Regions from separate parts of the Homo sapiens genome. Here regions 1 and 3 are each linked to region 2. The links come from fine-mapping of genetic effects on gene expression. A gene starts in region 2. Each other region holds a variant in brackets. All regions are shown on one strand. Distances are between the middles of the regions.

Evidence for each region. PIP is the estimated chance that this variant, and not a neighbour inherited with it, causes the effect.
Region 1: its variant is fine-mapped to the expression of POLR1D in whole blood (INTERVAL, PIP 0.94).
Region 3: its variant is fine-mapped to the expression of POLR1D in fibroblasts (GTEx, PIP above 0.99). The same link has a PIP of 0.9 or more in esophagus mucosa.

Annotation. Positions count from the first base shown.
Region 1 is chr13:27,641,269-27,649,452 of GRCh38, forward strand. It overlaps a transcript of POLR1D not described here. Among named protein-coding and RNA genes, the nearest start is that of POLR1D, 23 kb to the left of the region's middle. The variant T/C (reference allele first, on the strand shown) is at 4,314.
Region 2 is chr13:27,618,521-27,626,704 of GRCh38, forward strand. It overlaps POLR1D (RNA polymerase I and III subunit D), which reads left to right and starts at 3,372. Exons shown (of 2, transcript NM_015972.4): 1 at 3,372-3,489; 2 at 4,355-4,929. The coding sequence starts at 3,464. The coding sequence ends at 4,730. It overlaps LNX2 (ligand of numb-protein X 2), which reads right to left and starts at 2,009. Exons shown (of 10, transcript NM_153371.4): 1 at 1,855-2,009. RefSeq lists silencers at 1,559-2,448, 3,069-3,628 and an enhancer at 2,037-2,765.
Region 3 is chr13:27,662,706-27,670,889 of GRCh38, forward strand. It overlaps a transcript of POLR1D not described here. Among named protein-coding and RNA genes, the nearest start is that of POLR1D, 45 kb to the left of the region's middle. The variant A/G (reference allele first, on the strand shown) is at 3,986.

The sequences.
Region 1 (8,184 bases), 23 kb after region 2:
AACTTCCATATTAATTCCTACACATCTGGTGTTTCTAGATAAGCCCCAAGTCAAAGTATTTACAAGGCTCTTTTTCCTATAATTTGCAAGGAATGAAATCACTTTTAATTTATATGAAAATCTTGATTATAACAATATAATTAGGGACTTTATTAAAATCAGTGCAAGAAAATAAGTTTCATGGAATATATACGAAATATTTCTGTCTTTCCACATTAATCCAAATATTACCATTAATCCAAATATTAATATTAATCCAAATATTCAGCCATTTCAAAAAATGGCTGAAAATATTTTTTATTTTGTTATGATGAAAGCATATTTGTCAAGATAGGAAGAAGAAATATATTTAAATATTTTTAGCTTATTTTATAACTTTTACATGTTTGGAAATATTGTATGGGGACTTCATGTGCCCCTCAGTGGGCCTATAAGAAAGGAGCAGTTACATCTATTGATGTGGAGCAAACAGGGAGATCGGGAAAGGCTTGGTGGAGAGGTAATGTGAGAGCTGAGTGTCTGGTGTAAAGGTTGTGAGTGGAGAGTGATTTGGACAGAGGGCATAACCTGGGCAAAGCTCCCCCGTGCATGTAACAGCAAATGTAGTGTTGGCAGTTGGTGGGAGTGTCTAAGCCATGTTATGTCTCTGGACTGTCAGAGCCAAGGCCCTAGATGTGGTTATCCCACAGAGCATCTGTGTGGCAAGGCCTTGCAGAGACAGGCCAGTGGCCCCACTGTGACATCTCACCCTCTCTGTAGTGGCACCCTCCACTCCAACACTAGGCGCTGTCATCTCAAAACACAATTAGCATCTCCACTAAGAAATGGAGTTCAGAGGATGTTAACAGGTATATATATACAATGAAGCAAAAGAATAATATTGGAAGCTAAACAAAGGCCATTTATCTCTGATCAGTAGCTCACTGAAGGGAAAAGTGTTTTCCAGATCTGAAACCTTGCTGAGATTTTCAGACAGCCCTAGTAGATCAAAGTCCTCAATCCTGACAGGAAATATTCCAGCTCTGCCTCATTCTGTGTCCTTGGTCAGTGTCTGTGGTTTCCCAGTCTGCCCTAATGTTTGATGACACTAAGGATACGTGTTGCTGTTGTGCCCCTGTTTGTTTGGCCACTACAGGGGATTGCTCCCTCAGGAACCTGTAGCTCTTCATTTTTTTCATTACATTTATTTACCCAGTGACATACTATATTTTTTTCTTTTATCTTCTTCTCACCTCCTTTGTCTTTCCTCTTCTTCCATCTCACCCATCATCATCTATTCTGTCTACAGATGCAGTATTTTTATTTTTAAAACCTTGCATTTGTATCATGTCCCACACATACCCAGAACCCATTTATTCCCCAGATCTTAACTTAACCATGTATGTGCCAGGCATAGAGAAAACTAGGTTGAAAAAGACAAGTTCCGAGACCTTTAGGAGTGTAAAAAAATAGCTATCATATTTCTTCTGCTTCCTATAAAATACAGAACACTTGGATCCAAATCAAATATTTTATTTTATCCTCATAACAACCCTGTGAAGTAATTATTATCATCATTGCAAAAAGCAATCTGCAGTATCTTTGTCTTATTTTTCCACCACTGCTTAAAATACCACTTTCATCTATCTCTTTAGTTCATGTTGGGCATGAAATCAACAAAGGATCTCATTAATTTTCCTTTCAAACTCATGTTCCTCCATCACCTTCCAGTCTTTTACCAGCATAAGTTCTTCTTAAAAATTCAGCACCTTTTCTCATGACTTTCTGTTTGTTATTTTATAAATGAATATTGGAGCTCCCTCCTCACATTCTCCTAGATAATCCAGTATTTGTTTTTAAAGTACATATATGGCTCTTTATTTTATATGCAGGCCCTAATAGCCTCTTCAGGGAAGAGCCTAATTCACCGTATAAATCACAGTACCTTGTATTTAGCAAGTGCGTAATGTAGATTAGCTGAATTTAACAAAATGTGCAGATTAATTTATTGTGCCTTTAGTTTATGTCTGTGAATAAGTCTTTTCATTTCCCAAATAACCTCAGTGTTCCTATTGAGTTTTACCTTGTCTTTAAAAACGCTTTTCACAATTTGAATTTTTGTACCTTTCTTTAGAGCTGATACATGACCCCAGACAATCTGATATTTTACTGAAATTAAATAAGGATATTTCTGAATTTTTGCCTGTGTCTGTAGTCAAAACACTAAGTCATAAAGAACCCAAACTTTGTCCTGTGGTTTCTACAGATCCCTATGACTACTAAACCACTAGTTACTACTGGCAGTGTGAACCTATAAGCAGTGGTTTGCAGATGTTCAGAGTGATCTGATCATCTGTCTATATTTTTTTAATCAATGACCTGACATCAAAACTTTACTGAAGATCGAGTAGATAGTTCCATTTTTCTCTCTAAGCTTTATCATTCCATTATGGGAAGAAATTTAGATTGCCATAGTAAGGTTTCTTTTACACGTATGTGGACGACTCCACAAGTATAAACATGTTTGCCTTCAGCACTGATAATGTGTTGGGCCTTTTAGATAACTTCCCAGTCAACAGCAGCAAATGATGCTGTACTCATTTCTGCCAATTTTCTAAGAAGTCTGTATTCTTGTCACCAAGTCATGCTTGTTTGAACACATCAAGAAGAGAGTAGTCTTATTAAGCAATGTATTGCCTTTTTTGAACCTGTTTTTCTGTCCATCATGTGACAGATACTGTACTATACAGCTAGCTGATCAAAGGTGACTTTTAAAGACTGAGAGAGACACAAATGAGGAAAGCTTCTAACGTTCAGCCTTGTGTTCCTAGCTTTCCTTCACCATCACAGGAAGAGGCCTATAGTTCCCTCTGGCTGACTCCATCATTTTTGAGCAGTTATTTGAGATTTAGCTTCTCTGATTTTATTCCTTTAAAATTCCTGTTTTCCTACTTTATTATTTAATTTTCCTCTCAATTTCTGGTGCTTTATTTCAGTTGCCTTCAATTTCTTGCTACCCCTTCTGTACACTGGAACAGTTAACCCTCAGTTGATTAAAGTGATTAAAAAGAAACAGACCCAGATAACTCAAAACTAATTTGTTTGACTTTGGATTTTAAGATGATTTTGTACCAGATTTGCATTCCTACTTGGGTTTTATTTAAGCTGCTATTATGATCAGTTGACATTCCTTAAGCATGTACCAGCTGGCTAATGGAGTGAACAGGCAGGCCTGAGGAAGCTGTGCTAGTATGGAAAATTGGCTGGAGATAATACACACATGGATCATTGAAAATTGATTGTGGTTTGTTCCTGTGCCCAGAAAACCGTCTGCTTAATGACTCAGCTCTCTTGGGTCTCCATGGAACTTAGTATTCTAATATAATTAATTAGTTTTACAAAGAAACCTTCAAGATATTGAAAAGAACCAAGTGTAAAAACTAGCATACCAAGAACTAAGTTTATGTCTGAATAATTTTTTAATTGTTCAAGTTCTGTATATACTTAGTTCTTATATATTCTCCTATTTGCTTTTCCTGTATTTTAATTACAGTTTATACTTCTTTCATCACCTCATTAAAAACTATCTTGTTTCATGCATGTTAATGTTTCATAATCTTTGATAATTTAAGTTATTTTGCCCCTGTGATCATGTAGAATAGAAACTGGATTTATAATTTCCTTACCCAATAATTCATTAATGAGATTTCTAGAGGAAACAACAGAGGCTACAGTAATGGGGAAGTTGCTGACTTTCTCCCCTTAATTTTGAAGGTAGTTATAGTGTTTTAAGGTTGGGATACTTGATTGCTAAGAATTGTTTTCTTCTTTGGAAGTAAAGCTCTGTAGAGGGAGCTTATGCAGGAGACTTTTGGGTGGGAAGTAGCGAATGCTCAACATTCTTAGGACAAAATAGTGATCAGTCCTCCTTCATTCCTTCCGCCTCTCCAGTATCAGCCTATCCCCCAGTTCTCTTTGAATGAATGCAGTAGTGGCACTCTGTTAGGCCTTTTTTTTCCCCATTTAGTTTATTTTTTGCCTTTTAATGATAAACAATTTCTCCAGGATTTGCTGCGCAGATATTTGTGGAGGAGATAGTCTAATAGAAGGATCAGATGATACCTAGCCTTAAAAACAGAGGTTGGGTTTTGTTTGCTTTGTTCCTCTTCCTCATTGCCCTTCTCCTTGATCGTTAGCAGTGTTACTTTGGGCAAGTTAGTCGATGTCTCTGAATATCACTTTCCACATCTGTATTGGTGGTAATAACTATGTTATCATGGTTATATAGAATAGTACTTGGTATACTTAAAGCTCTATATCTTCATTAGTTGTTG[T/C]TAAACCAATTGCAGATACCTAACTTGGGTAGATCCGAACCATGGGAATGGGTCACGCTGCACCACTTTGGCTGTGAACAGCAGCTAAGCCCCCTTTACCAGTGGGAACACGGTAGACAAGCTGACTGAGTGCCCTCCCACCCAGTATCTACTCCTCCTTTTATGGTCCTCCATCCTTGGTGAATTTGTTTCACCGCAGGCAGTCTTTCTCATACATATATCTTCTTTTCTCTTTGTACTCGTAAACCAGAAGGCATCCTTAAGCGTGCCAGGTAAAATTAATAACAGTGCTAGAGACAGTTTTAAGTAGAATCGAAACTAAAGAAGAGTCACTGTCAAACTTCAAGCTCTTGAAAGCACCTAGAATATGCCTTCAGGGTCTCTGCAAGAATCTTTACTGAGTATCTTCTGCAGATGTATAGCATTTCAGCTGGATTCTGACTCAAATAAGTTTCTATAGTCTGGTCCAGAAAGCTAGGCAAACATTTTAACATAGTTTTTATGGGAAAACACATTCTAGTTTATTTGTAACTGATACATATTTTGTTCATAATTGGGGAACTGCCCCAAAAAGTTGTTTTCCTGATTATTTTTAACCATTTCTTTTGACAGAAGGAGAGCACATAGGTGGATCTAGGTATGATTTATCTTTTTATTTTAAAACTACCACACTAATTTATGGGAAAGGAAGAGGCATATTTGGAATATTTATACCCTTTAATTTTTTTACTTAAATCTATAAGGGTGAAAAACAATCTGTTTTGGACCTTATTAGGATAAATTTTGCTTGAACTGTAAGAGACAAAGTCCCCAGATCATTTCAGCAGGCCATATCATTATTCTAAAGAGCTGGAAGAAGCAGCATATGTGGTCATCAGATGAACTTACCTCTTTGTGATTCCATAAGAGGTTGGGCTGCGAAACTTGTGATTGAGGGAGTCAACATGTCAGTAGATAGGCAAGCGCTTTAGTTTTTCATTGATCTGTAGCAGTGGGCCTTCCCAAGAAGGATCAGAAAATGTCAAGCTGCTGAGTTAACTGAAAAGACATCTTTTAAAGATCTCAATAAGAGTTTATTTTAAAATGAGTTACACAAAAATAAGCAGATGTATTTTTGAAGATTAAGAGGTGGTGAAATAGTTTGAAAGCATAGTATTAGGAATATGGAGGTAAATAACGAGAAACAGATGAAAAAAGTTGAAATTGTTTTCTTTGGTGGGTAGGGCAGGATAATTTAGAAGACTGTTGTATTTAAAATCTTTTAAATAATATTTGTCTTTTTAAACTATGTGCATGCTTTACTTTGATAAAAATCAACATGAAATAAAACATTCTTGTAAACAGAATGTTAATATCATTTGAAGATTATATAGTATATGGTAGCATTATAATAGTGTCATAACATTTTAATATAGACTCTATATAATTATCCAGCTTCAAAAATTCATGATTAGATTTATAGTTCTGTCTTTGGACTATATTTGTTTTGGACTATATTTGTTTATACCTCTCTTTTTCTTAACTTTATTTTTTCTTAACTTTGTTATTGATACATCATATTCAAGTCAGGGACGATCATCTTCCTATGTTGCTACCCATAGCACCTTGCACAGTATCTTACACATAGTAAAGTCTCAGAATATGGTTGATAAATATGTTTTCTGTTTTTTTAACCTCTTCAAAAATTACACAAATAATACATGTTCATTGTAGAAAAAATAGAAAATGCAGCAATGCAAACAGAAAAAATCACCTTAAAACTCATCTTACTGTTTTGATAACATCCCTCCAAATTTTTTTATTATTATTATTTTTATTTTTTTTAGAGACCAGGTCTTGCTATGTTGCCCAGGCTGGTCTCAAACTCCTGGCTTCAGGTGATCCTCTCACCTCACCCTCCCAAAGTACTGGGATTACAGGCATAAGCCACCACACCTAGCCGTCTCCAAATGTTTTTCTATGTAATATATATGTAAATAAATTTGAAATTAAGGTTATTCTACACATATTCTTTTGTACCAGCTTTATATACTGAATATGTTATGAGTGTCCTGTGCCAAAAATTCATTTGTCTTCATTTTTAATGACTGCCTAATCTTCCACATATGTGGATATGTTATGATTTATTTAACCAATCCTTTATCAGTAAATATTTAAGTTTTCTGTTTTTTCTTTAATTGTTAACAAGTAGTTTGAATATCCTTGTACATATACTTTTCCATACTTATTTGAATATTTTCATAGGACAAAGTAAAAAATTTTTAGATCAACTGGTATATACTATTCTTAAGGTTCTTTATTATGTTGCTGGATTGTCCTCCAGAAATGTAATATCAGCTTCAGTCCCCATTAGTAGAGAAGAAGTTATCCATTTCTCTACCCCCTCACTAACTAATGGGCAGAAACATTTATCCTTGTTGAGTTCACTGGTATTTCTTTGAATAACAGTGAATTTGAAAAAATATAGATATATACATATTTGGCTGTTCATGTCTTTTGGTTATTCAAATTAATAAGAAAAGATAATTCTTATATTAAGGATATATGATTTAACTGTCTCATATCAAAAATATTTTTCCAGTTTGTAATTTTTTTCTCTTCAATGTTGCTTCTCTTTATATTAATAGTTTCTTTTTAATTTATGTGTTCAAAATTGTCAACCATTTAAAAAAAAATTTGCCCCAGCAATCATGCTTCAAAAGTTAGTTCCTTTCCCAAGATCATGGACCTGGAATGAATTGATTTTCAGAACTTAGTAGGGTGACTGCCTCTCAAATCTTTTCCTTTTTCTTATCAGGAAAGCAATAGAAGAACTGCTTAAGGAGGCAAAACGTGGGAAAACTAGAGCTGAAACAATGGGACCCATGGGTTGGTAAGTTCTTTGAGTAATCTTCCTTAAAACTTAAGAAAAAATTCTTAGCTGGAGATATAAATATGTAAATCTTTAGCATATAGAGGAAATGGGAAACCATGGAAGCAGAGGAAATCTCTCAGAGACAAGTGTAGAGTAAGACACTGCTGAGAACTGAATGTTGAGAAACTCTAATAACATGAAGAAATGGGCAGCAGGCGCCTATGGAGGATACGCAGTATAGGTTCATTGTCCCTTTAGTTCACAAGTCTCCAAGAGGTATTTAGATACTACTGTGCGCAAAGTCACCTGTGCAAGAGTAATATTATGTTGGTGTTCATTGTTTAAGAATTTCTAGTTTACTTATAGTCCTTAGTAAATTAAAATTTATTTTAGGAAATTAATTTTAACTGTAAGCATTTTGATTATGTGACAATTCAGCCATGTAGAATTAAAGATTACCTTTGCAGATTATGTACAAAATAGAGCTTGTTAAAACTTAATAATATGGGCTGGGCACAATGGCTTATGCCTGTCATCCCAGCACTTTGGGAGGCCAAGGTGGGAGTATTGTTTGAGCCCAAGAGTTTGAGAATAGCTTGGGCAACATAGTGAGACTTCATCTCTACAAAACAAACCAAAAAAAACACCCTTCTAGGCACTACTTTAGTGATGCCATTTGCATTTGATGAATTTGTTGATTCTGGAATTTATATCTACAGTTAAAAACGTACTGCAATGGAATAAGGAGGGTCATTAAAAAGAGTAAAATGTAAAAATGTGAAAAGAGTAGAAGCTAAACTTCTGAACATAGCTCATTTTGTAATTTTGACATTTAGAACCATGCACATAGTTCACCTAAATTCCAAGACAAAAATTAAAATGGAAAAGATAATACCTAAAAATCAAGCAAAATAAAACATGGACCTGATAAACCATTGAGTGGATGGCTTAGCTACATGGAAAGAAACTATTTCAGGTGATCTGGAATTTGACTATATTTCCAAAAGATAAAAAATA
Region 2 (8,184 bases):
TCTGGAATGCTTACCCGTTATCATGACATTCTCCTGCTTAAAATTAGCAGCTCAGTATCACTGACTGGATAAAGTCCAAATTTCTTAATCTGGTATAAAAAATCCTTCATTTTTCTGTTCAAGTCAATTCAGTAAATATTTTAGTGCCCAATGTAAGCAAGAAAAGGTGCCAAGTGTTCTGAAATGAATAATACATGTCCCTGACTACTACCTCCACCTCGGACACTGGGTCCTTCGGCCAGACAAGCCCATATGCAAAGCTCGTAATACAACAGCCCAAAGACACATACATTTATTTTTAAGTGGCCTGCGTGCTACGTGCCTACAATGTACGAAATCCCAAACCAATCTGAAGACTAAGTGCCTACGTAACACCTATTCTTACAGGTCTCCAGGCAGAAATGCTCCCTAAGTTCAAATTACTTCAGGGTAACTAGTGGGATAAAGGCATGGATCAGTTTCCAAATGAGAAAACTGGGCAAGAAGCAACCCCCGCCATCAATGGCTGGCATGCAGTAGGTACTTTATCAGTGGCTAAATGAATAAATAATGAAAAAATTTCAAAGTTGATGAGAGAAACAAGATATATGGAGAATGTAACACACAAGTGGGCCGAATTAAAAGTGATGTTATTCTACTTTGGTTCTCATTTGGCCTACTTTTACCCCATGGGAAAACTCACATGTGGGACTCGGACAAGCTAAAAAGCCAAAACTTTGTTATTCATGGCTCAACAAAGCTTTGACAAGCCAAAAAGGATACCAGATTCCCGCTTCCTTCTTTACCTGCCAAAGTCCATTTTCTAAAGAGGTGTGGGGGTGGGAATCAAATCTAGCAAAGTAAATAAAATTGATCTACTGAGATCCAACTTCATTAGTGCTGCATCGAAGTACATGCAAAAGAAATATCAAAACCTGTCCTGGGAAGAAGGCCAATTTACAAGTAAGTACTATTGCCGCAAGAATGTGAAATTCTTAAAGGCAGTTCCAATAAGCTGGAGCTCACAAGTGTTCCTCCTCCTGCACCGCCACCGCTTTTCACTCAACTTTGTTTCTGATTTCTGTGATTTTAAAAAGCATAATATACACAGCAAAGCCCATGCATAAGTGTACTTTAGCTCCTGGTACAAACGAACGTCTGGATTCATAAACTTAACGTAAACTGAAATACTAAAAGAAACACTACATGAGTCAAAAGTCCTTGTTTAAAACGTGGCATACAGCTTTGAAAAGCGAGTGATGTATTTCCTGAATGATGCTTTGTGTGCAACTGCTTCCAAATCAAGATTCATATTTTTAAATTACCCCCTGGAAGATGTCAAATCTCTCTCCCACCCTCTCCAGCCTAAAGAGAAAGGTGAGAATTCACAGGCAACAGGCTGGGGCGGAGGGAATGATCTCTCCCCATCCCTTTCCAGAGAACAAAACCCGATAAAGGCAGCTAGTGCCACTCTCATTGCCGACACCACACACACACAGAGGAAATTTAAACACTCACCCCACCTCTCCCTTCCCTTAAGAAGCAAACGACGCCAAGCTCTGCACCACGGTGGCCGGAACCAGCAAACGCTAACAGCCGGAGGCCGCCCGCCTCCCGGGCGCCTGCAGGCGGCGGGCACCGGGCGCCGACTCTCCCTCCTGGACCAGACCCACACCCGAGTCCACGCCAGCCCCGCAGCCCGGGCGAGCGAAGACAGCCGCGAAGGACCAAGGCTCCGGGGCGAGCTGTGGCGCCGCTCCGGCCGCCTCCCGGGGCGCGGCGCTGACCCACACCCAGCTGACGCCCGCACCTGAGGCGGCTGCCCGCAGCCAGCGAGAGGGCGCGCAGCGAGGCGGGCAGGGCAAAGTTACTCACTGGGAAAGCGCGGCTGCCCGGGCCGCGCACGGGCTCCTGGCGCCGCTGCTCGGCACCAGCTCCCGCTCTCCGCGGCCCGCTGAGGGAGCGGAGAGCCTGCCCGGCTCCGCTCCGCCAGGAATCGCCGCCGCCGCCGCCGCCGCCGCGGATTTCCTGGCAAAAAGCAAACTCCGGCCAAGACTTCACTTCTCAACCGCCCCTGCTGCCTTCCCGGGGGCAGCGCCAAGGCCGAGCGGCCCAACCCGCACCCGGGCCAATCGGAGGTAGCACAGGGCGGGAGGTGGGCGGACCAGAGGGCGGCTCCACCTATCCGAGAGCTCGGGAGGCGGGCCAGAAGGGACCCGTCACTCCCGGGTTAGAGTGAGACCACTCCGCCCTCGCCGCCCGCCTCCCCCACTCGCCCCGGGCTGTCCCCGCCGCCCGCCTGATTCCCCTGCGGAAGCCCCGCTGGCTAGGTGTCTGCGCGCACCCCCGGCCGCCGCCAAGAGTGGCACAGCTGGGGAAGGAGTGAACATCCAGAGGAATCGCGGGGCGGGGTGGGGGGAGGCCAGGAGAACAGGTGGCGCAGGGAAGCAGAAACGTAGTTGCGCTGGACAGCTGGAGTCGGGCAGGGTCGGGGCCAGCGGCGAGGGGACAAGAAGGGCCGATTCGAGAGGAAGCGCACCTGAGGGAGCACAGCGAAGGCCGGGACGCAGGGAGCTGGATGGAGAGCGAGCCTGGGCGGCGAAAGGTTGCCGAGGCGGGGGCTGGGCGCCTGGGAACAAAGGTGAGGGCGGGTTCCGCAGGTGAGGAGGTTTGAGGAGCCACTGGGGAGAAAGGGAAAAGGAAGTCTACAGCCGGAGAGGACGCGCTCTGGGGGTAGAAGGAATCCTAGGACGGAAAGGATAAGGTGGGAAACAGTTTTCTCCCAAACTCTCACTCCCCCAAAAGAGACATTTCTTTCTTGCCCTATTTTGACCCAGTTGAAAATGCAACTGCAAGCTCCCCGGTGAAACAAATACCGCCTTCAACCTTCGTATTCTGTGGTGACTCATCTCGCACGTGACCCCCCTCCCTCTTCAAGGTGTGTTGACCGACTACAGTTTAAGCCTGTCGTCCCACAAAAGGCCCGGGAGGGCCGGGGTCCCAGGAAGGGCCATCCTGGGTCAACACCGCCCCAGTTGGGAAGTCGGGCCGCTTTCGGACTTGCCACTGGGAAGGGAAGTGATTTGGGGGCGGCAGGTAAGGCCGCGCCCCTTCGCCATCACCTGGGGAAAGGTACCAGAGTTGAGCCGGGGCGCCCGCAGGCCTGTCTGGGCCTCGGGGTAAGGCGGCGCTGGCCCCGCCCCCTGCCCCTCCCGCCGCGAGTGGCCTCGCGTGGTCGCCCAGGTGAGCCGCGGGGCCGCGAGCCACCGCTCACCCCGCGTCGGGGCGGGGGCTGGGGGTGGAGCCTCATGCCCCGCCCCGCGGCTGGGCCCTGCCGCGCCGCTGCGGCTCCTCCTCCCTCCTTCCGTCCTCCGCGCCTTCCGTCGGTCGGTCCTTGCTTCCTGCTTCGCCTCCGCGCCTCGCGCTATGGGACAGAGCCCCCGATCCGCCAGCACCACCTGAGGATCCAGAAACCGCCCCAGCGATGGAAGAGGATCAGGAGCTGGAGAGGTAACGGCCGAGGAGGAGGCGGGCGGAGCGGGCCGCGCCCAAGGGGAGCGGGTGGCCGAGGGGCACGCTGCCTGGCCTGGCAGCCGGGGCCTGACTCGGGGCGCAGAGAAGAAGCATGGAGAGAGAAGTGGGGAGGAGACATGAATGTGTTTCAGTTGAGAGGCTGAGAGGTACACTAGCTATCAAGGAGGGAAGACAAGTTGGGAGACCAGAGTTAAGTATCCGAACTGCCCACCCCCGTTACAACAGCAGTGTGTAAAAATCACGCCCCGGGCCTCTGCTCCTGAGGACGGTACTCGTGCCTCTGTCCCTGTAACTACGGCTCACCTTCTTTCTATGTGCAGACTGCTCCTAAAGCCACTCTGTGCGCTGAGCTCTTTTTCTCCCTGCTGCTTGACTCCTGAACCTTCCATTCTCCTAGTTTCCTTCTCTTGCAAAATGGAAGCCGTAGTTGGGCCTGCACATTGATCATCTGTATCCTCTATTTTTATACTAGAGCAATCGGGATTTCTATGCCTTTCAACCCTCTCTTCATCCTCTAGCAGGACCAGTCCTATTCTAATCCTATCCCTTGCTTGTGACTCTACCAAAAAATATTTTTGCAAACACTTAAGTTTGTGTTTTTCTAAGAAAACTCCCCTTGTGGCCAGTGTGGATGGTCAAATGGAGCAGGGAAAAACTGGAGGCAATAAATTAAATATTTATTGATAGAGTTTGTGGAGGCAGGAAAATGAGAGGCGAATAATTCTGTGTAGCTGGAGTAGATTAATAATAATGTGTTGCAATGTGATATAGTAAATGAGAAAAAGCTAGTTACAAAACAATATTCAGTATGATCTCATTTTTATAAAAAATATGTGTGTAGAAAAATATCTGGATTGAAGACCTCAATGGCTGAAGGCGAGAGGAAGACAGCCCTGGAAATGGTCCAGGCAGCTGGAACAGATAGACACTGTGTGACATTTGTATTGCACGAGGAAGACCATACCCTAGGAAATTCTCTACGTTACATGATCATGAAGAACCCGGAAGTGGAATTTTGTGGTTACACTACGACCCATCCTTCAGAGAGCAAAATTAATTTACGCATTCAGACTCGAGGTACCCTTCCAGCTGTTGAGCCATTTCAGAGAGGCCTGAATGAGCTCATGAATGTCTGCCAACATGTGCTTGACAAGTTTGAGGCCAGCATAAAGGACTATAAGGATCAAAAAGCAAGCAGAAATGAATCCACATTCTAGTCCTTTATGCAGTATACAAGGAGAACTGTCCTGTAGGATATTCTCTTCCTGATGGTGCAGAACCCAGAATTAGAAGTTTGTGGTTACAGCATACTCTGTCCTTCAGAAAGGCGTGATTCTAGCTGTTGACCCCTTGCAGCTGTTGGAATCTCTGCAAGAACCTCTGTATTCTTCTAATAAATTCCCTCTTTTATTTAAACTAGTTTGACTGGTTTCTGTTCCATGCAACCAAATGGTCCTTGAGGATGACTTTTTTTCTAATTAAGCCAGCATTGAAAATGAGGAAACTGAGAATATCAGAGGCCTAGACAAGAACTGTGATCATGGGAATTAAAAGAAGTATATATCCATGTCTGTAGTTGGAGTGGTGGGGGTAAGGGAAGAGACAAAAACCATGACCCCAGTTAGATTGTTGTTTAAAAACAGAAGGAAAGAAGATTGGGGTGGGGACTTGGCTTCTTGCTAAACTTTTTGGCTTTTAAAGAATTGCATCATTTGCTGTGATTGGTAGACTTGGCAAGGGTGGGAATAATTTGGAAGAAGTGTGAGAATTCTGGTTTTACATGAGAGTTTTAGGGAGTAAGGCTCCATCTTTGAGGCATTTACAGGAAAGATACCAGTTTACTGCTTGAATTTTGGGATATACTTAGTCATGATCTAAGTAAGGTAAGATGTTTTGATTATATTACAGAAGGAGAAAATTGGGATGACTAGAAAACATTTTCAGTCCTTAAGTAGGTATAGCCTAGGGTAATGTAGAAGAAGCCCTATTTGAGAGAAGGTAAAGCCAAGGAGAAGGAAAATTCCATATAGGGGAAATGACTGTTTTGGAAAACACATATCCCACCCGCCAGTGCTCTGTGCTTTGGGCCCTTGTTTATCTATCCCCTCTTCCTGGGCCAGTCTTACTCCTGCCGTACTCTTAAGTCAAAGCTTATGTGTCAGGCCTCTCAGCCTAGTTTGGGTACTTCTTTGTGCTTTCATTACACCCTGTGTTTCCTGGCCTTGGCATTTACTATGCTATTGGTAGTGCTTATCTTGTTTACCCACTAAACCAACTTGGAGGTCAACATGATTCTGGTACCTGGAACACCTGACAGGTAGTGGACACTTAGTAAATACTCTATGAATTCATGTAAGTAGTTATGGCATGCAGCTTTTCAGTCACTCAAACCTGACCTCTTACACTAGCGTGCCATAGAGCCTACATTTCCTACACTCAGCCAAATTCTTTAAAGAGATATCCATATTTTTGAGCACTAGTATGTTCCAGGCCTTGGGGATAGATATATAGCTATAGTGGATGAGACAGAGTAAGTCCTGTTCTCATAAAGCATGTGTTATAAGAGCCCCTTAAAAAAAAATTGTGAGGCTCGGCATGGTGGCTCACACCTGGGAAGCCAAGGTGGGAGGATCACTTGAGCCCAGGAGTTTGAGACAAGCCTGGGCAACATGGGGAGTCCCTGTCTCTACAAAAAAATAAAAAAGGTAGCCAGGCATGGTGACACATGCCTGTAGTCCCAGCTGCTTGGGAAGCTGAGGCGAGAGGATATCTTGAACCTAGGAGGTTGAGGCTGCAATGAGCCATGATCACACCATTGCACTCCAGCCTGGGTGACAGAGGGAGACCTTGTCTCAAAAAAATATATAAAATTAAAAACTTGTAATTCTGTAAAAGCAGCAAATGTAGGGTCAAGATAGAAAACATAAGAAAGGAATCTACTTTAGGCACGGAAGTTAGGAAAGGTGTTCTAGAGATTACAGGAAGGGAGAGAGCTGGCTGTGCAAAGAGGAGAGAAAATGCATTCTGGGGGTATAGCATGTGCAAAGGTCCTAAAGCAGAAAACTGGTGGCATGAGGAACTGAAGATATTGAACAAAGATTTGCATGTTTTTGTAGCACAGTAGACAAGGAGAAGGGCCTGTCCTCTGGAGTCCATGGGAGGAAGAGTTGGGGTAGTAGGGATTTTGGATTTTAGGTTCAGTGGGAATGACGTCTTCTTTACTTTGATTACAGAGTGGGGGGAGATGAATTATAGGGAGGCTGGAGTAGAAGCAGAGAGAGACACTATAAAGAGTTGAAGTGGCCTGGAAGGGTAGAAGCTAGTGATGGAGAAGAGAAGGTAGGTTTGAGGTATATTTTAGAATTGAATTGGCACAGAATTGGTACACTTCAGGAACTGTGGAAGATGAAGAATCAAAGATGACTACTGCCTAGCTTTGGGGCCAATTACTGAAATTGGGAAGCTTAAAATGGAAAATAGATTGGGAGGTGGAAAAGATGATAGGAGTCAAAAGTTTCATTTGTGAACATTGTAAGCAGTGGCTATGTGAGTTGGAGATCGTGGAAGAGATCTAAGCTGGAGACAAATTTTATGAGTCCTTGCCATAAAGATGACATAAATTGATTAAAAAAAAAAAAATAGAGGGTGACAAAGAAGTGGGCCCAGAACAAAGCCCTAGGCAACTTCAGTATTTAAAGTTTGGGTCAAAGAAGAGTTAAAGATAAGAGTATTTGTAAGTTTGGGTCAATGTAATGGTAGGAAAGTGCAAAAATAGGGTGTGGAAGCCAAGGGTTTCAAATAGGGAATAGAAAAATGTCACCTGGAGTTAACGTGGAGGTCACTAGGCAGTAACAGCATTAGTTTACTGCCTAAGAAGAGTAAACATTACCACTCATTATACAGAGGAATGGCTTAGTTTGGTTTTCCAATAAAAGAATCACATGAAGACATTGGAAGAGGTGAGTTTAGGCGGGAGCAGGGATGTCATAGGGCAAGGATACAGCATATTCTCTTATGGTGACAGTAAGAAATTCTGGAAAGTCAATGTTTGTTTAAGGGCATTAGCCTTTGAAGATAAAAGGAAGCTCAAAAAGGATGTGGAAAAGGATTAAAAACTTTTTTCCTCTCCCAAAACTTTGCCTGTGGGGATAGTAAACAGAATTACTTACCTGGAGTTTAATTCCTCTAAACCAAGGCCTGTCAGGAGATGAAAACAAAGTTTAATTAGTGGACATCAAGGTACAGACTGATGATAGTAGATGAAGTACAGTGGGAAACACAGCCAGAGGCGACCGCTCACCACATCACAACTTCATTGCACCTAAAAGAATTTAGACTGATCACGTAGAATGCAGTCTTGAATGTCTTTAGGGTGACCATAAACTCACGGGTTCATACAAAACACCTGCAGAAGGCAGTTGGGTGGAGGGAAGAAACTGAGAAGGGGGCAGGCAGGTTAACCAAGAGTCTTGTATATGTGAAAGGAATCTGCATAAAGTCTGTAGGGACCTGAGGGAAAGCTGAGTTGGTCCAAAAAGGACTAGGGAGATGAATGTGAATCTTATACATCCTGTGAAAAGTTAATCCGCATCTGATTTGCACTCCAATAGCATTTCATTCTAAATAAACTCATGCCAGTGATTCAAGATCAGAAATTCTCTTCAGCTGTAA
Region 3 (8,184 bases), 44 kb after region 2:
ACGAATGCAAAGAGGAGTTAAGTAACTTGCTTGTGATCACACAGCTAATTAAATAGTAGGCTGTGAACCAAAACTGAAATTAACCAAATGCCTTTATGTGTCAGGCATTGTTCTGAGTACTTTACATGTTCTAATTCATTTGATCTGCATGCAACCCTTTAAGATAGTCGCCATTATTATCCCCACTTAACAGCTAAGAGGCAGCAGGGAGATTACATAACATGCCCAAAGTCCAGTCTGTTAGTGTGATTCCAGAGCATGTGTGCCCAGCCACTGTCTCATGTAGTGTGATTTCTTAGCAATGAAACAACCAACTGTGAGATTCAGCAAAATTAATTTCTACCTTAAAGGCCAGAGAAGCTCTCCCCACTGATTCCCTCAGACATTGGTTTTGATGTTGCCGTCCTTAGACTTGGATCTATTCTGTGCAGATTTTGGAATTTCTTTATATAAAATGATTTACTATATGTACCTTCACATCTGCTTGCAACTACTGTATCTCATTGCCCTGCCCTATTTATTAGTAGAGTGTGAATGAGCACTTGTCATCACTTCTAAAATGTGTACTGGCATGCCTGGGAGATGTCTGACTTTCAAACCCCACCTCCACCCCACCCCAGTAAACCAAGATCTCCTCAGGCCACCCTTGGCTATTTACCTAGAATAGAATCCCAGGCATAACCAACATTAAAAAACTGCATCTCTGATGTTAAAAGAGATGTAAATGCCAGTTTTCTTGTGGAATTATTCTATAAAACCATCTCATTCTCTGGCTAACTCTTTGGGTCACTATGTTGAGTCAGTGGGTTACACTAGCAGTTGGAAGATAGGTGCAGTCCCCTCTGCCTCTTGGCGTGAATGCTGCAGTTAGTAGCAGGGCTTTGCTCACCTCGAGGAAGCATTTGGTTTTAAAGATGATCTGACATTGAAAACAGCAAAATAGAGTGGAATTCACCAGTAGTTACCAAAGGTTTTGTTCTGAGATCCTGGATTACCATCACGTCTGGGAAAAGTACCCTTCCTTGTTGTTTAATGCAGAGAAGAACTGGCCAGTTTACCACCACTGAGATGGCCCACTTCAGTGAAAAGACCCCAGAATTCTTCTGTTGCTGGACATGTTTCACCAGCTACTCCTAGCCCTATATATCCAAGAGACATATGTAGTTCATTTGTCTATAAAAAAGATTTTGCTCTTGTAGTAAGCACCAGGCCACCATTGCCAAAGACAGGCCCTCTAAGCTTTTTACTCTCTGTGATGGAGGGTAGTTTTTCCTGTAGGCTGTCTGTGTTATGCTGTTTTGGAACATGCCAGTGTTTAATACTGTTCTGAATCATTGCTGAGTTTGCAACTGCAGTGGGTCAAGTGTCTTCACCAAAGCAACGCCTGCATTCAGTAGTACCCTGTCAGACCCTGCAGGAGAACTCGGCTTGCCTCTCATCACGTGCCTGTCTTCCCGCACAGGAATGTCCTAATGCCAGCGTGCCCCCAGGAGGTAGAAATGTCTTTACCTTGAGACTACTAAGGCAGCGTAATGCTGGTGTACCTTTTCTGGAAGCTCTGTGAAGCTCTATAGTTCGTACTTGCAGAACTGTTTTTTCTTTGTTTTTGCCTTTCTTCTTTGCCCTTCGTCTCATTCACTGTGGCTTCTAAACTCCAGAGCTGTCACCACCTCTGAATGTTCCCACTATTTCTGTTGCACTCCACTGTCCTTTTCTTAAATTTTCTAATTTTCCACTGTCCTTTTCTAAGTTTCTCCTTGTTCTAGTTCATTCCTTTGTCACTTTTCTGGCCTGACCATTTTTCTCAGATATTTTCTCTGTCCTTGTAGGCTCAAGAGCTACCTATTTGCAGCAGGAGGTATTTTCTTGTTTTTCTTCCTTTTACTTCCAGATTCAGTGCCATTTTGGTTTTCTGAGATGGTCTGACCTCTGTGAGTGAGGCTATGCTAATGCCTGACTGCTTATACTTCACCTGTACAGTACTAGTCCACACAATTCCTATGTGGAGTGTTGTTGGCTTGATTTTGAAGTATTGTTTGGGGTTCTCTGTAAATCAAAGTTTTATAGAAATGTGGCTATTCTACATTCGTTTTTGTTTAATACCAGCCACCCTGAATAACATGATTTTGAGAATCAGCATACTCCTAAAGTAGCCCATCATATGGCAGACACCTCAAGGCTAAGAGAAATATGAACGTTCTCATTTGTATAGGGTCATCTTTTTGAAAATGAAAGATTTATTAACACCTGAAAAAGATAATACATAGTATATAAGTAGATCTAAGCACATTAATTAGCAATTTGATTGGTTGCAGCCTCTCCTAGGTAAACTTGAATCATGAAGGTACTGAAATATATCCTGCACAGAAATTCACCAGGGCAGGAGATTGAGTAAAGTGCTCCTCCACAGAGCATAGCCTGGCATCCTGAAATAGAAGTGTAAGAATTTTTTTAAGTAAAAGATTATTGCATATTTATGGATTCTTTACACAATTTTTTTATTCTATAGTAGATCCTTTAGCTCCTGTATTTAATATACAGCAGAATATACTTTTTAGTTTCCTTGGAAAGGAACAGTTTTCACTGTCTGGTAATAAAACGCAAGATGCAATAAATTTAATCCAAAATAAGTTACAGTAAAATAGGGCACTTACTAGTTTGAAAGAAAATATTAAATGATTCTGTTAGTTCACAGTGTGGTCAATACCTGTACATATGAACTTCAGTAGGAAATTTAGTCCCAGGAAGGAAGAAAGGTTTAAAGTGTTCCAGCCAGTCTTGTCTCAAGAATTCCAATCGTCTTTTTTTTTCCTCCCTGGTACTCAGAGTTTACACTAGGTGGCATGCAAGGAAAGCTAACAAATTCAGAAACTCGATTCTGTGGGAGCAGGATTCTTTGGTACTAATCACGATAGTGGGTCCAGCTTTGGAGTTAACCATTTGATTTGTGATGGTTTTTCTTTTCTCCTCCCCACCCCAGGATGAAGTGTCCTCTTGCTAGCACCAATAAAAGATTTCTAATTAACACAATTAAAAACACATTGCCCTCTCATAAAGAGCAAGACCATGAACAAAAAGAGGGCGATAAGGAACCAGCGAAGAGCCAGGCCCAGAAAGAAGAAAACCCGAAGAAACACAGAAGCCATCCTTACAAGCACAGCTTCCGCGCTCGAGGTTCCGCCAGTTACTCCCCGCCACGAAAGCGGAGCAGCCAGGACAAGTACGAAAAGCGGTCCAACCGGCGGTGAGGCTGGAACCAGGGCCAGCCAGCCCTGCGGGCCTCCGTGCTCCTTCGGGGTGCGGTGTGCGGAGAAGGCCTGAGCTGGCAGGGCAAACACCTGAGAGTGACTTTGACATTAGGTCCTTTGTTGTTTTTAAAGAGGCTGCTGGCCACAGGCAAAAAAAATGACCTAGCAACTCTTGAGGAAACAAGTGCAAAGGAGGATGTCTTGGCAAGTTTAAGCTACTTCTGCAGTGTAGTAGACTTACATATTGTTGTTTATCTTGTTTGGAAGTGTGTTTCAAAATAAACATGTCTAGAATTTAAAGTTTTCAGAGATTGTTAAAACTGGTTCCAATTTTTTGGTCATTTCTCAGAAAAATAAAATACTTATAAATCCTATATTTTACTTTTTGGGGGTATTACATTTAAAATTTAGAAATCATCAGTCCAGTGACCATATTTATGAAAAGCTGTAGCCCTCCAAGGTCTGGGAATTTATCGAGAAGCTCTTTGATAGCTCTGCATTTGTTTTCCCTTAGGTGAACAATGTAGGAAATCCTCAAAGTGGCTTTGAATTTAATGCTCCACTTCAGTTACCAGAGGTTAAAAATGGGTTTTGTTGTTTCCTGTGCATTCTCAAACTCATTTATTAGATAGAACAATCTTTCTATATTTAATTTTTTTAATATATAGGTCTTAAGTGGTGCTTTAAAAAGAACCCTCACAAGTTAAAAATTAAGAGTTGTTTCAGTGCTAGATCTT[A/G]CCAGCTAAAGACTTGTGATACCACTATATAGTATAGTTGTTCCAGAAATCTTCATTTTAAATAGAAGTGTTTACAATGCCTTTTTTCCCCCAGTATTGGTTTTCAATACCTGTTTTCATATACAATTACAAACCTTTCAAACCTGTATTCCTTCTTTATACTCAGGAAAATGTCACCAAGCACCCTCCTCCCCAGTTCACAAAAGGAAGAAGATGAAGATTCTGTCTCCCTGTTCCCCCTCCCCAGTTTTCCAAAGTGTCTGAGCATATGCCTGGCTGTCCTCAGATCATCACCATGCCACATCCCTGCTCCCTACTTCCTGGCAGCCAAGAAAAGCCCTTTCTACATGCTAGAAGGAAATACATCCAAAAAGTTAGCATTGGAGTGTTAGAAACTAGAATAGACCTCTCCGCCACCGAGCTGCTGTGTCACGCCCTCAGCCTGCTAGGGAGTGACAAGCCCAAGTCATTCTTGATCCACCCCTTCTCCCACCCCAGATCCCAGGGACTCATCCTGTGACTTTGTAACCACACTCATTCCTTTCAAACACAGAGGAGGAATTATTGCTTCATCTGACTTTATTCAAATCTAGTTATGTATTGGCCTAAATTATTTGTGCAAAATTTGAAATGTTTTTTATTTAAATATTAGAAATAGCACAAAGTCATGGAGTTTTTAAAAATTGTTATAATTAAGTAAAAATAAAGCTGAATTGTGTCATTTGTGTATGCATTCTGTATTTATTCATTATTTATTCATTTATTTTGTTTGAGAAGGAGTCTCGCTCTTTTCCCCCAGGCTGTAGTGTGATGGCACGTATCTCGGCCCACTGCAACCTCCGCCTCCTGGGTTCAAGCGATTCTCCTGCCTCAGCCTCCTGAGTAGCTGGGATTGCAGGTGTGCGCCAACATGTGCAGCTCATTTTTGTATTTTTAGTAGAGAGAGGGTTTCGCCACGTTGCCCAGGCTGGTTTCGAACTCCTGAGCTCCGGTGATCTGCCCGCCTCGGCCTGCCAAAGTGCTGGGATTACAGGCGTGGGCCACTGCACCCAGCCTTGCATTCTGTATTTATAACACACAGACAAGTTCATTATCCTTTAAAAGGGAATGACTGAAATGAACACATTTTTGTACTCAAAATTAAGGGAAGCTTTTTAGCCTAACTATACTTACCTTTCTTAAGTTGTGTTAAACGACAGTGGCCTACAAAACCATTTTCCCTTTTAAAAGCACTGTTCTATTTCAGAAAAGTTTATTGGAATCTTTAGGCTTCTATCAAGAGCAGCCATAATTTCCAGTCTAAAAATGTCAAGAGAAAATTATCTATTTTTTATTCCCTATGTATACAGTAGATGTTAGGGGAGGGATTGGTCATGAGATACATTCACCAGCCACCTCCTGTTTCTGTGGTTAACATACTGGCGCTGCCAAGAGCTCCCATCCGCCTGTGTTACTATCTGATCTCCATTGTAACTATATTTAGAGATCACAAAGCCTGGGATAGAGGTTAGAGAAACTGAATCTTAGTCCTGCCTCTGCTTCTGGCTAGCTTCAGGCCTTATCTGGGTCACTTTTCTGGACTGCATTTTTTCATCTGCAAACTAAGATGTTTGGAGTGAGTCTTTAACTTTCAATAGGTAAAGAAAGAAGTGCAAATAGCCCTAAATTTTAGGAACTGCGTTCCATGCTTCCACTAGAAACCATTAAGACTTAAACACAAATGCAACTTGACATAATTTTTTGTTTTATCTCATGTTAGAAAACAGCCTGTAAGAAATATAAGCAAAAAGCTATGGTTCCTAGCCATATCTGGTCACCTATTGGTGGCTAGTCTTTCTGAATCGCCCATTTATGAAGGGGGAGGGACTTAGGGTAGGTCCCTCTGAGTAGGCAGTTTATAAATTTTTATTTGGAAACACATGTTATAAATCTCAGTGGGTTTTACTTTAGGGCTCAGCAGGCTAAGCACTAAAGGACATTTCCTCAGAGCTGATTCTGGAAGATGGCTGTGGAGTTTTGAATTTCCCTGTGGACTTCTTTTTTGCTGAGAGGTTGGCAGGGGGGCAGGGGGCACATTGGCACATCTGCTTCAAAGCATAAAAAATGCTTTGGGGTAGCATTTATTCTTTCACTGATTATTCAAGTGACTTAGCATGGCACTTACATATTTATTTATTTTTTGAGATGGAGTCTCGCTCTGTTGCCCAGGCTGGAGTGCAAAGGCACGATCTCAGCTCACTGCAACCTCTGCCTCCCAGGATCAAGCAACTCTCCTACCTCAGCCTCCCGGGTAGCTGGGACTACAAGGCATGTGCCACCTGGCTAATTTTGTATTTTTAGTAGAGACGGGGTTTCACCATATTGGCCAGGCTGGTCTTGAACTCCTGACCTCAGGTGATCTGCCCACCTCGGCCTCCCAAAGTGCTGGGATTACAGGCGTGAGCCACAACACCCAGCCCATATTTTTACAATTAGTTACATATTCGTCATTCGTAGAGGTCATGCCATCACCTTAGAATCATAAAGAGTATCTGGTGGATAAGCAGTGCCTATTTAATAGACATTATATGAGGTGGGTTCCTGATGAAATGAAGCCTCATCACTTTCCTAAGGAGTGTTCTGTGTCCTGGGATCCAGTATAGAGGACTCCCCTCCCCAGAGGAGCTGAATCTAGGAAACCCATAAATATTCTCCCTATGAGGTGTTTGTAGGCTGTATTGGAACTGTGTGGACAGTAACAGTGATTGTCTATCACCTGTGGCCAAACACTGTTATATCTTTTACCTGTGTTCAGGTAGTTATCCCACAACCCTATGAAGAAGATGCTACTCACCTTCATTTTACAAATAAGGGAAACTGAGGATAGATTAAAAACTTTGCCCAAAATCACAGAACTAGGAAGTGGCAGAAATGCTAGCTGAAGCCAAGACTCTCTGAATCAAAAACCCATACTCTTTCCTGTACCCTATGCCAAACTTAATCCAAACTCGGCTCCCTCAAAACACAGGACGGGAGGGTCGTCTCAAGGTGTATATGCTCCATGTCTTCCCAATTTAAGAACCTAAAGAACTTTTATAATCACTGCATTTTGCAAGCCAAAATCTACTCCCATAGATCAGAACATGGAAGCCCCAGCAAAGAACATTTGTATGGGGAACTGTTTCCCAAGGGCCAGTGTAGACAGCGATCTGAATCCAAGAGAAAAACTCTCACAACTCTTGTGAAATGGTTAAATGGCAGCTAATGGAATATAGCTATGGAAAACTAAAACCTCAGGTGAAGCCAGTATTCTAGATCTTCCATGTTTGAATTTTTTTTTCTCCATCCATAAGAATAGTGAGATTTGGGAGTAAAGAAATCCTTGGGACGCGGCCTCTTTGATACCATAGAAAACATTCTATAATCCAAGGAATTTGAGAAACTATCTCTTGGAAAGCCATGTCAGCAGATCATAAATTGAGCCTCACCCATGGCTCTTCTGAGTCTAGATACTGAGAAGGTTAGTTTGCCAAGTGGAAACTCTTGTTCTCAACATGGAAAAGATGCCCAGGAAGCATGCCCTTTTACACACAGGAACACATAAAGAGGAAAGTAAATTAATCCCCATTAAACTGGCAAGGCAACACTGAAGGCAGAATTCAAAGGCAACTTATACATTTTTATTTGGTAACCCATGTTATAAATCTCAATGAACATTACCATGAAAAGGCCAATAATAAACATGGATTTTGGAGCATCATTAATAGTAAGATGAAAGATGAACTATTTCTCCCATCCATATAGTCCTGTAATATTCACCTTTGGTTTCGATAACTTATAAATACTCTCTATGTGAAACAAATACCAGATATAACACATCATATGAAACACCTGAGGGAGACATTTCTCCTCCACATAAATGTATAGCCTGCCCTAAGTGGTGGTCCCTTGTCCTTCCTGGATTGTTTTTTCTTATTAATTCCTCAGTGGTAGCTCCCTCAAGTTGAACTAGTATATACTGTCCAATTATAAGCCCCTATCTACTCCAAATTACACTCATCAGTCTGCTAAATACTCCTTTCAAAGCTCAGTACCAATTTACAAAGAAAACTCCACAAGACTTATTTTTAATCCCACATCCTGCATGAAGAACAGACCATTGGTGTACTCATTCATTCTCTCACTCAGTGAACACTTAGAGAATCAGGAGATTATGACAA